Homo sapiens: one gene and its partner. The protein of the gene in region 2 purifies or fractionates together with the protein of the main gene of each other region. This does not show direct contact. Each region holds a gene or a part of one and is shown on either strand. Other genes may lie near its edges.

Region 1 (4,858 bases), on a different chromosome or scaffold from region 2:
TAGCCCTGCAGGACAGCTGAGGTGGTGCAGCTCTGACTATGACCCAGGGGGATGGAAATGATCCGAGTCTCCTCCCCAGTCCCTTTTCCTGGGTAATCAGGACTTGGTAATCCCTGATCTTTGTCACTCTGGGACCTTTCAATGCACAGCATCTCCTTTGGTCCTCACATCAGCCCCGTGAGGTCCTGATTATCATCCTTGACTTGAGCCATGAGGAAACTGAGGCATGGCATAAGGATGGCTCAATGTCACACAGCTCATTAGTTATCCAATTAGTCCAAGCCCAGGGTCTCCTGAAACCCAATCTCCTCTTCCTGGCAGCCCTGTCTCTGAACCTAGATCCTGGGTAATTGGAGATGATTTTCCAGTGTTAGTATTTGGACAGCAGCTCTGAATTTCAGTTTCGAGTATGTGTGGGTTTATCTTTCCCCATCCTGCTTTCTCGGGATCCTTTGTTTTAGCTCATGAAAAAGAAGAGACACAGCAGCTTCCTCTATGGGTGGATGATTCAGGACTGAGGGCTCGGGTTGGAGGTGGGAGGCAGGGAGTATCCCAGGGACTCACCGACGTTCTTCCTGTGCCGGGCTCTGGCCACCCCCACAGCCACGGCTCCCACTGCCAGCACCAGGCCCAGGGGCACCAGGGTGGAGACCAGCGCTCTGGAGCTTCCACCTTGTTCCTCAGAGCTGGAAGAAGGCTTAAGTTAGTTCATCCCTGGAAGGGAGATCTGGGGGCCCGACGATGTGCTGGCAAGGTTGGCTTAGTCCTTTTTCCTCCCAGGTTTATCCACCCCACCCTGCTGATGCAGCTCCCTAGCTCTGTTCTTCTAAGAAGCCTTCCCAGACTGGCAAAGGCACGCACTGGGCCTTGTTGCATCCTAGGCCTGGAAGATTGAACTGAATTGTAAACACCTCCCCAGCCATGGGAGAAGGGCAGAGGGTACCATAGGACCCTCCCACATATAAGCAGAGGTAGTAAGGGCTGCCCCAGTGCTCAAGAGACAGATGGGCTTTCCTCCTTGGACCTGGTGGCCCAGCCTCAGGTGCTCGGCTCTGGGGTGTTCTCCGAGTGGGGAGCCTTGAATCCTTCCTTACCTGCCGGAATCCACAGATGCTCTGCTCCCATCGGCTTGATCTCTTGTATCTGCCACCGCCTTTTCCTCTGCAAAAAGCCTGGGATCCTGAATGGCTTTGTTCTCAATCTCCCGAAAACCAGAGTCTAGCACCTTCTCATCAGGAGCAGCGTCTGCCTTCGCTAGGCTGACATCGCGGGACCCTGCAGCAGGGAAGAGTGGGCCTGGGTTGTGATTTTTCTCTATGCTCTTACTCCTCGAGGTGAAGGAGTCTGGGGGAGACTTCATGAGGAATCACAGGGTCAGGGTTCGATCTCAAGGCTGTTGGGGTAGGACCCAGGATGACATTAGAAACAGCTGTGATGGCCTTCTTCAGCTGTCACAGATGATCTCTGCCCCATTACTACCAAAAGTATAGTGGGGACCTTCAAGGCTTCGTGTCATAGACCAGCTGTGCATAAAGGCTGACCCATCACTTATGCCCGGGAGATTTTCAAGGCTCTGAGACGCTGCCCCAGGCTTCCTGACTGCCCAGCTGGGTATGATAGTGCTGCCCCCTGGAGGTAGCCTGGCGATGGGCCCCTCAGTGAGTCCCATCCGCAGGGTCCAGACCCAATAGGATTTCTTGAGGGACTACAAATACCCTTATTAGGGCTAAAACATTTCATGTGAAATTTTAAAAGGGGACTTGAAATGCAAATTTACTAGATGTTTCCTAATTTTCCTGATCAGACCTTGTAAATGAAGGTATCTGGCCCTCTTTCGAGGGCGAGCTTTGGCAGGGGGAAGGGGGATGAACATATTGCATATGACAGTGATGTATGCATATTATTCTTCTATACAGAGAAGAATATTTCCAGATATAGAAGAGACTTCAATCTGGGTTGAAGTGGCAACTATGGGACTTGTCTTTTTTTTTTTTTTGAAATGGAATCTAGCTCTGTTGCCTAGGCTAGAGTGTGGTGGCACGATCTCAGTTCACTGCAACCCCTGCCTCTTGGGTTCAAGCAATTCTCATGCCTCAGCCACCCAAATAGCTGGGATTACACCACCATGCCCAGCTAATTTTTGTATTTTTAGTAGAGACGAGTTTTCTCCATGTCAGCCAGGCTGGTGTTGAACTCCTGGCCTCAAGTGATCTGCCTACCTCGGCCTCCCAAAGTGCTGGGATTACAGGTGTGAGCCACCACATTCAGCTGGGAGTTGTCTTAATGCCGAGGTTAAATAGCAAACCCACTATTTTTACTTAGTTGGTATGTTTATTTGAGATGTCCCTTTTGAAGGGCTCAACGAGGCTATATAGGACCTAAATGTCCCCTCCCTTCCCACTCTCCACTTTCAGCCTCTTACAGCCAAACATAGGGGCCAGCACTGATTGAGAAGCTCTCAGGCAGGGGCCTTCAGGAAGTCCTGCCTCTGGGTCTGAGGGGTGCAGGCCCTGTCCTTGGAGACTCACCCGCTGCCTTCCTCTCTTCAACTGCCACATAGACGGCTGCAGTCTCTCCATAGAAGTGGCCCTGCTTCACTCCACACCAGTACCAGCCCTCATCAGCCCTGGTCACCAGGTTCAGGGTCAGGGAGACAAGCCGGCTGTTCTCGTCACAGTTCACGAAGGCCTTGCTGGGGCCTTCGTCTTGGCTGGGCAGGGCCTGGCAGCCCGTGTTATTCCACTTGCACCAGTATTTCTCGTACGAGGAGAATTTGCATGGAAAGTGACAGGGGACCTTGAGAGTCTCTCCCAGCACAGCCGTGACATTCCCTGGTACCTTGAGGTTTGGTTCTCCTGGAGGAGGGAGGGAGGTAGAAATAAACACAGAAGTTGGTACTTGGAGATGCTGCAGGGAAGTGACTCTGGTGGGAATCTTTGTCCACATGTCATATACATATATATATATATTTTTGTTTTTGTTTTTGAGACAAGGTCTCTCTCTGTCACCCAGGCTGGAGGGTAGTGGTGCGATCATAGCTCACTGCAGCCTCCATCTCCTGGGCTCAAGCAATCTTCCTGTCTTGGCCTCCCAAGGTGCTGAGATTACAGGCATGCACCACCATGTTCAGTCTACATATCCTCTTTGGATAGCATTAGAAATAAGTATGTTATTCTGACTACAGAAGAAATGTAATTGTGTGCCTAGGTAATAATTATTATTGATGAGCACCATGATCAATCCAGAGTCTACCATAGACCATAGATCTTCACACATGGACTTCAGTTTGCTTTCCTCACTCTTCCTTCTCTTCTAGACTCAATACAAAGAGGTATCTGCAATCCTTGACTTCAGCTGATGCCTGCACACTGCGAAAGAAGCCCATGTTCTTGGTAGTAGGAGGTACCATGTATGGTAATTCAGAGTGTAAGGTGCGTGTTATAGGCATGAAAATGTGACCTCTGGATAGGTGGGCTCCCTCCTGAGGTCTGGCCCATCAGGGTGGAGGCGGGTGAAAAAGGAGGAAGAGTGGTTGGGGATGCTGCTGCTGGCTGGAGAGGTTTTAGAGCTTTCTCCCTCCCTGTCAACTCCTACCTTCGATAATCTTGATCTCCACGGTGGTCCTCCAGAGAGTATCGCCGTTGGTCAGACACCAGTAGAAGCCGGCGTCCCGGCTGGTGAGCTGGTTGAGGATGACAGTGAAGGTGCCGTTGCCTGGCTCCTCCAGCAGGGAGAGGCGGCCCTCGTACTGGGCCTTAACCCACCCCTCGCTGTCCACCAGCAGGGGGCAGCGGCCATTCTGGGCCCCTTCCCAGAGACACCAGTACTTGATGCTTTTGCTTTCCTTACGGTTGTAGGGGCAGAGCACGGCCACAGAGCCTCCTGCCACCCCCTTCACCACAGTGGGGCTGCGGGGAATCGTGGACTCTGGAAGCACAGACAGAGATGGGATGGGAGGATGGCCACGCAGGAAGAGCCTTGCGTGGCCTGAGAAGCCTTCTTCCCGGGGTCTCAGCCAGGATGGGGAGTGAAGTTTACACGCATCACCTTACCCTCTTCAGAAAATGAAAAGGAGCTTTCCTAATGTCACAGAGCCTGCAGCTGGAGCCATCAGGGCCAGACTCCAAGGGCTTGGAGTCTCCCCATCAGCCTGCACATGTTGTTCTTTTCCCCCATCTTATTCTGAGCAGAGAATGGAAGGAGTTGAAGGAGAGGATATCAGCTCTTCTTTGGCTTCTTACAAAGTCTCCCTCTGTGTAGGTTTTTGTCTATTTAGTACACTAACAAGTGTATTCCACAAAAGTGGCCCAATGGATTATGCCCAAATCAAGAAAATATATTTAGGATGGTATGATGTAAACTATAAAGTATGTAGCAAAGGTGAGCTTAATTGTTGGGGCCCCAAGGGGCATCTCAAAGACGATAGCCATTCTCCAGGCAGCTAAAGCTGAGATCCAGAGAGAAGCAGGTGACCAAAGATGCAGGGGATTCTGGTGAAAACCCAGAGCTGGATGTGGACATGGCATGCAGAGAATATAAGCCCCTTTAAAAAAAAAAAGTCACAAGCACAGATACTTGGAACTGCAAGTACTGGTTTGCTGCTTCTCACGAGGGCAACTCTATGCAGGGTGCTCTGGGATGAGAAGGAGCTGGGATTTAATTCTTTCACCATGCTGATGGCTCACTGGAGTAGGGCTGAGTGGGCCAGATGGTGCTGAAATTCACAAATAACCCTACGAAATGTGACAGTGAAACATTTAGAGGCTGGGGCACTCCTGGGAACGCATTGAGACCAAGATAAGCCAATCCTTTTTCCATCTGAATGTGAGGGATGAGGCACCCATCTTGTTCAGGGGCC
Region 2 (5,355 bases):
TTACAGGCACCCACCACGCACGGCTAATTTTTGTATTTTTGGTAGAGACGGGGTTTCACCATGTTGGCCAGACTGGTCTCGAACTCCTGACCTCAAGTGATCTGCCCACCTCAGCCTCCCAAAGTGCCGGGAATACAGGCGTGAGCCACTGCGCCCAGCCTCATGTTCTTGCTTATTTGTGGGAGGTAAAAATTAAAACACTTGAACTCATGGAGATAGAGATTAGAAGGATGGTTACCAGAGGCTGGGAAGGGTAAATGAGGGGTGGCGAGGAAGTGGGATGGTTAATGGGTACAAAAATATAGTTAGAAAGAACAAATAAGACTCAGTATTTGCTAGCACAACAGGGTGACTATAGTCAATAATAATTTAATTATACATTTAAAAATAACTAAAAGGATAATTGAATTGTTTGTAACACAAAGGATAAATGCTTGAAGGGATGGATACTCCATTTACCCTGATGTGATTATTACATGTTGCATACCTATATCAAAGTATCTCATGTACCCCATGGCACCTGTAAAAATTAAATTAATTACTTTTTAAAAACCCAGGTTGTTGAAGGGTCAGTTGTAATTCTTTTCATCCTCAAAACGATTCTATGAGATAGCCAATATTATTCCCCCCATTTTGAAAAATCAATGCCCTTATTAATGTTGTTAAAGTGAAAGTTCAGAAGGTAATGGGGAGAGAACCAGACATTTCTGTTTTGCACTTAAAAGGTTAAGTTTAATAGGGACAAAGAAGTCAGTCAAAGAATGCATGTAAAGAAATATGCAACTTATGCCAGGCACAGTGGCTCACCCCTGTAATCCCAGCACTTTGGGAGGCTGAGGTGAGCAGATCACTTGAGGTCAGGAGTTCGAAACCAGCCTGACCAACATGGTGAAACCCTATCTCTACTAAAAATACAAAAAAATTAGCCGGGTGTGGTGGCACGCACCTGTGATCTCAGCTACTTGGGAGGCTGAGGCAGGAGAATCCCTTGAACCCAGGAGGTGGAGGTTGTAGTGAGCTGAGACAGCACCACTGCACTCCCGCCTGGGTGACAGAGTGAGACTCCATCTCAAAAACAAAGAAAAAAAAAAAAGAAATATGCAACTTAAGATATCTATCAGACCATTAAACTGCTGAAAATAAGTCTTAATTTTCCATTCAATCAGTATCCAGATTGAAAATTAATGTTTTTCTCTTTTCCCATCTCATTCATTTTCTACTTATATTTCATTTTTAAATATTTATAATACATATTATGTTACTATGGAAATAAACTGCATTAAACTTATATTCCTAACCAGTGTAAATTAGGATTTATATCAAGCTTCACCAGCAAATAGCAACACATAACCCATTTTCAAATATTTGGTTTAATTTAGGAGAAGCAAAGAAACATATTGCACAGATAAACACGAGGTCACTTTACTCCTTTGAACTTGTTTCATTCCTTAAGAATTTCTAAAATAGCTACATACAAAGACAGGAGTAAAAGCAAGTTTTACCCACTAAAAAGTAAAAAAAACAGCCTGGCACGGTGGCTCACGCCTGTAATCCCTGCAATTTGGGAGGCCGAGGTAGGCAGATCACCTGAGGTCAGGAGTTCAAGACCAGCCTGGACAACATGATGAAACCCCGTCTCTACTAAAAATACAAAAATTAGCCGGGCGTGGTGGCAGGCGTCTGTAATCCCAGCTACTTGGGAGGCTTAGGCAGGAGAATCGCTTGAACCTGGGAGGTGGAGGTTGCAGTGAACCAAGATGGAGCCACTGCACTCCAGTCTGGGCAACAGAGCGAAACTCTGTCTCAAAAAAAAAAAAAAAAAAAAAAAAAGGAAAAAAACCATTTTTACCATACTTTCTTGCTAGTGGATAAGCTGACCTTAGGGAAGCCATGCCACAGGGGTGAAAGGGAGAGAGGGAAAAGAAGCAAGAGTTGGAGGACTAATAACTAGGATTACAAGATGGTATTATGGGCTTTGTGCACTGAAACAGGGAAAGGGGAGCTGGAAAATAATCCAGTAATCTGGGGCCAAATCTTGGCTCTGACATTCACCAACTCTGGAGATTGGGTAAATTGCTAAATTTCTCCCCTTTTTAGTTTCTGACCTTATAAAGTTGTTGTAAGATAAAATGAGACCACAAATGTAAAGTACCTGTTAGTACTAAGTGAATAATAAGTTAAGCCTCTCTTGGGGGAAAAAATGTCTGCTTGTAGCTGGGTCAAAGAAAAAAATACCACCTGTGGGGTAGTGGTGATTTGATCTTTTGAGTTCTGTGGCTAATCCTTGGATAATTAAAAGGTTGAATTCTGTATTATGCTTGTGCTATTAAGCATGCATGTGCACATGAGTGCACACCCACCCACCCACATACACCCTCCCAACCACATACACAAACACAAACACACAAACACAGAGACGTGCATGCGTGCACATGGGCACAAAATATAAACCAGTGAGGTACAATGTGTCCCTGAACTCAGATCACTAAGAACAAAACAATAGCATGAAGGCCATTTTATCTGTCAAAAAAACTCATCTGAGGGTTAAAAAAATAATAACTACAGTTATTATGAAGCTGAAAATTAATTTTTATGTGTAGCATTCCACTTTCAGATCCCTGGAAGAAAGAAGCTAGACTCAAGGTATAAGAGTATGCAGTATTTCTAGAAATTATTAATTAATTAAAATAGCTAATAAGCCAAAAAAAGTGCTTCTTAGTTTTGTTTTTTTTTTGAAGAAATCATTCCTAGAAATAAAAACTTAATATTACACGTGACCTCACTTAGAATTACTGAAACATAGGTATTTTCACAAAGAAAAATAAAATTTACTTTTTTAAATGAACAGCTGTCAGTTTGGAAAGTCTTCTTACCTGTTTGATTTGATGAAGGCGGCTGATGGAACCATGAAAGGGAGGAGGTGGCAACAACTGAAATTTAAAATATAGAAGTCAAGCTTGCTTTAATGTTTGTGATTAATTACATCTCAACATTAAGTCAATGTTGAATTACCTAAAATATTTATTTAGTGTCTTATGCATGCCAGCAACAGTATCAGTTAGGTTCAAAGTTAAAAAAAGATCCAACTGGATCTTGACTGAAAATTATACTAATCAAAAATCAACACTTTCCAAAACAGAACAAAATAACTGTTATCATAATAAATACAGAGCAGAACATCAATAGAGGATTTTGTTTGTCTCTACCTTTTCTTTCCTAAGGCACTAGATCTTAAAATTGCCTCATTTTTCTTGCCAGTTTTAGCCCATCATTAAAGCTTAGGTAGAGGTATTACCCAGAACAAAAAGCTGAAACAGTCATTGAATCAGTAGCTAGCTTGCCAAGCATACTGCCCAAAAATCATAAACAGAATAACTACATCAAATATCCTGGAATCTAGCTGGGAAACCAAACTTTCATAATATGAAATGACTCTAAGGTAATCACTTTCAAGTCATTTAGCACATTTTACTCTTGGTTGCTAAGATACTTCTTGTCTAGGTCCTTTCTCTTTTTCGGGGCTACTTTTTCCTTTTCAGTCTTTTCTCAAAGCTTATGAGGACCCACACAAGAGGGGAATGAAAGAATGGAGGGATTTAAAGCTAAGTGTGAAAATGAGGCTTGAAAATTACCTTCAGAATTCATCTGTAAACTCTTTCTGTACCGTGGTTATTTCTTAAAATGCCAGATAATGTGTTTACCATATCTTAGTTTCAAATTCTATCTTAAGAGCACATTGAGTTGTACATTCAAAATATTGAATGAGGCCGGGCGCGGTAGCTCATGCCTGTATTCCCAGCACTTTGGGAGGCCAAGGCAGGCAGATCACTTGAGGCCAGGAGTTCAAGACCAGCCTGGCCAACATGGTGAAACCCCATCTCTACTAAAAATACAAAAATTAGCCATGCGTGGTGGCATGTGCCTCTGATCCCAGCTACTTGGGATTTTTAAGAAAAATAAAAGACCTGGAGGCCAGGCACGGGAGGCTCATGCCTATTATTCCGGCACTTTGAGAGGATCACTTGAGGCCAGGAGTTCAAGACCAGCCTAAGCAAGATGGCAAACACCCACCTTTACAAATATACATATATATATATATATATATATAGAGAGAGAGAGAGAGAGAGAGAGAGAGAGAGAGAGAGCACTGAGCTAGACTCTGAAGATCGAAAGATAAATAAGACATTTTCCTGTCCTTGAGCAAGTCAAAGTCTAAGTCTAGTTAGCAGAAACTAGGTCACAGCCAAATGGCAGAACAGAGTTACGATTTGGGTTCAAAGGACAGAGTTCAAAGGACAGAGAACTCTGTGTGGGTCTTGAGGAAGTCTTCATAGAGGAGTAGCAACTCATTAGATAGAGAAGAGGAGGGAGGACATTTCAAGGAGTGAGAGGAAACACTCAGGCAGAGAGGAATGTTCAGGGAACAGAAAGGTTCAGGGTGGCTGAAACTTAGTACCTGCGAGGGTACAACAGGAAACAAATTTAGGGAAATTAGGCTAAAACCAGATTGTAGTTTTTGGACTTTAGCCTTTGAGCACAATAGGAAACCCAGAGCATAGATTCCTCTGAGTTCTTAAACCTCAAAGCTGTTTAAACAAGATCATATCTGCTTTAAAAAGGTAACCCTAGCAACATCATGCAGAACACATTGATGGTGGATGGAAGAGGGACTAGACGCAGGGTCACAGGCCAGGTCACAGATGGTGAGGGTCTAAATGAAAAAGGGAGAGTGAAGAGAAGGAGGTAGATTGGAGAAATGACCAGAAGGTTGAAAAAGAGGTTGCTAAGGTTCCCAGTAGAAACCAATAGATGGAGTGTGGCCATGAAAGGCAGTAAGAGGAGTGAGTTAGTGAGTGGAGGGAAGATGAGTGTTCAAAAAGTATGTGTTGGGCCATGTGTGGTGGCTCATGCCTGTAATCCCAGCACTTCGGGAGGGGGAGGCGGAGGCGGGTGGATCACTTGAGGTCAGGAGTTTGAGACCAGCCTGGCCAACATAGTGAAACCCTGTCTCTCCTAAAAATACAAAAATTAGCCAGGCATGGTGGCGGGTGCCTGTAACCCCAGCTACTCAGGAGGCTGAGGCAGAAGAATCACTTGAACCTGGGAGGCAGAGCTTACAGTGAGCTGAGATCGTGCCACTGCACTCCAGCCTGGGGAACAGAGCAAGACACCATCTCCAAATAAATAAATAAATAAATACATACATAAAATAAAGTATGTGTTGGATAAATAAATGTTTCTATGAAGCAGATAGTCTGAATTTTTGTTGGGTTTTAAAATGTATCATATTGCTGCTTAAGGAATATATCACCTCACTAATTATATGTTGCTTAAAGTATTAAAATCAGTTTGTTT

The links. Proteins that work in one complex are often made in the same cells at the same time.
Region 1: the proteins of PABIR3 (region 2) and PIGR purify together in Homo sapiens (affinity purification with mass spectrometry; one large-scale study listed by BioGRID and IntAct). This does not show direct contact.

What each region holds. Positions count from the first base shown.
Region 1 is NC_000001.11:206,931,892-206,936,749, forward strand, and holds part of PIGR (polymeric immunoglobulin receptor precursor), read right to left. Parts: intron 3,928-4,858; coding exon 3,595-3,927; intron 2,856-3,594; coding exon 2,529-2,855; intron 1,276-2,528; coding exon 1,095-1,275; intron 687-1,094; coding exon 565-686; intron 1-564.
Region 2 is NC_000023.11:134,826,801-134,832,155, reverse strand, and holds part of PABIR3 (PABIR family member 1), read right to left. Parts: intron 2,931-5,355; coding exon 2,874-2,930; intron 1-2,873.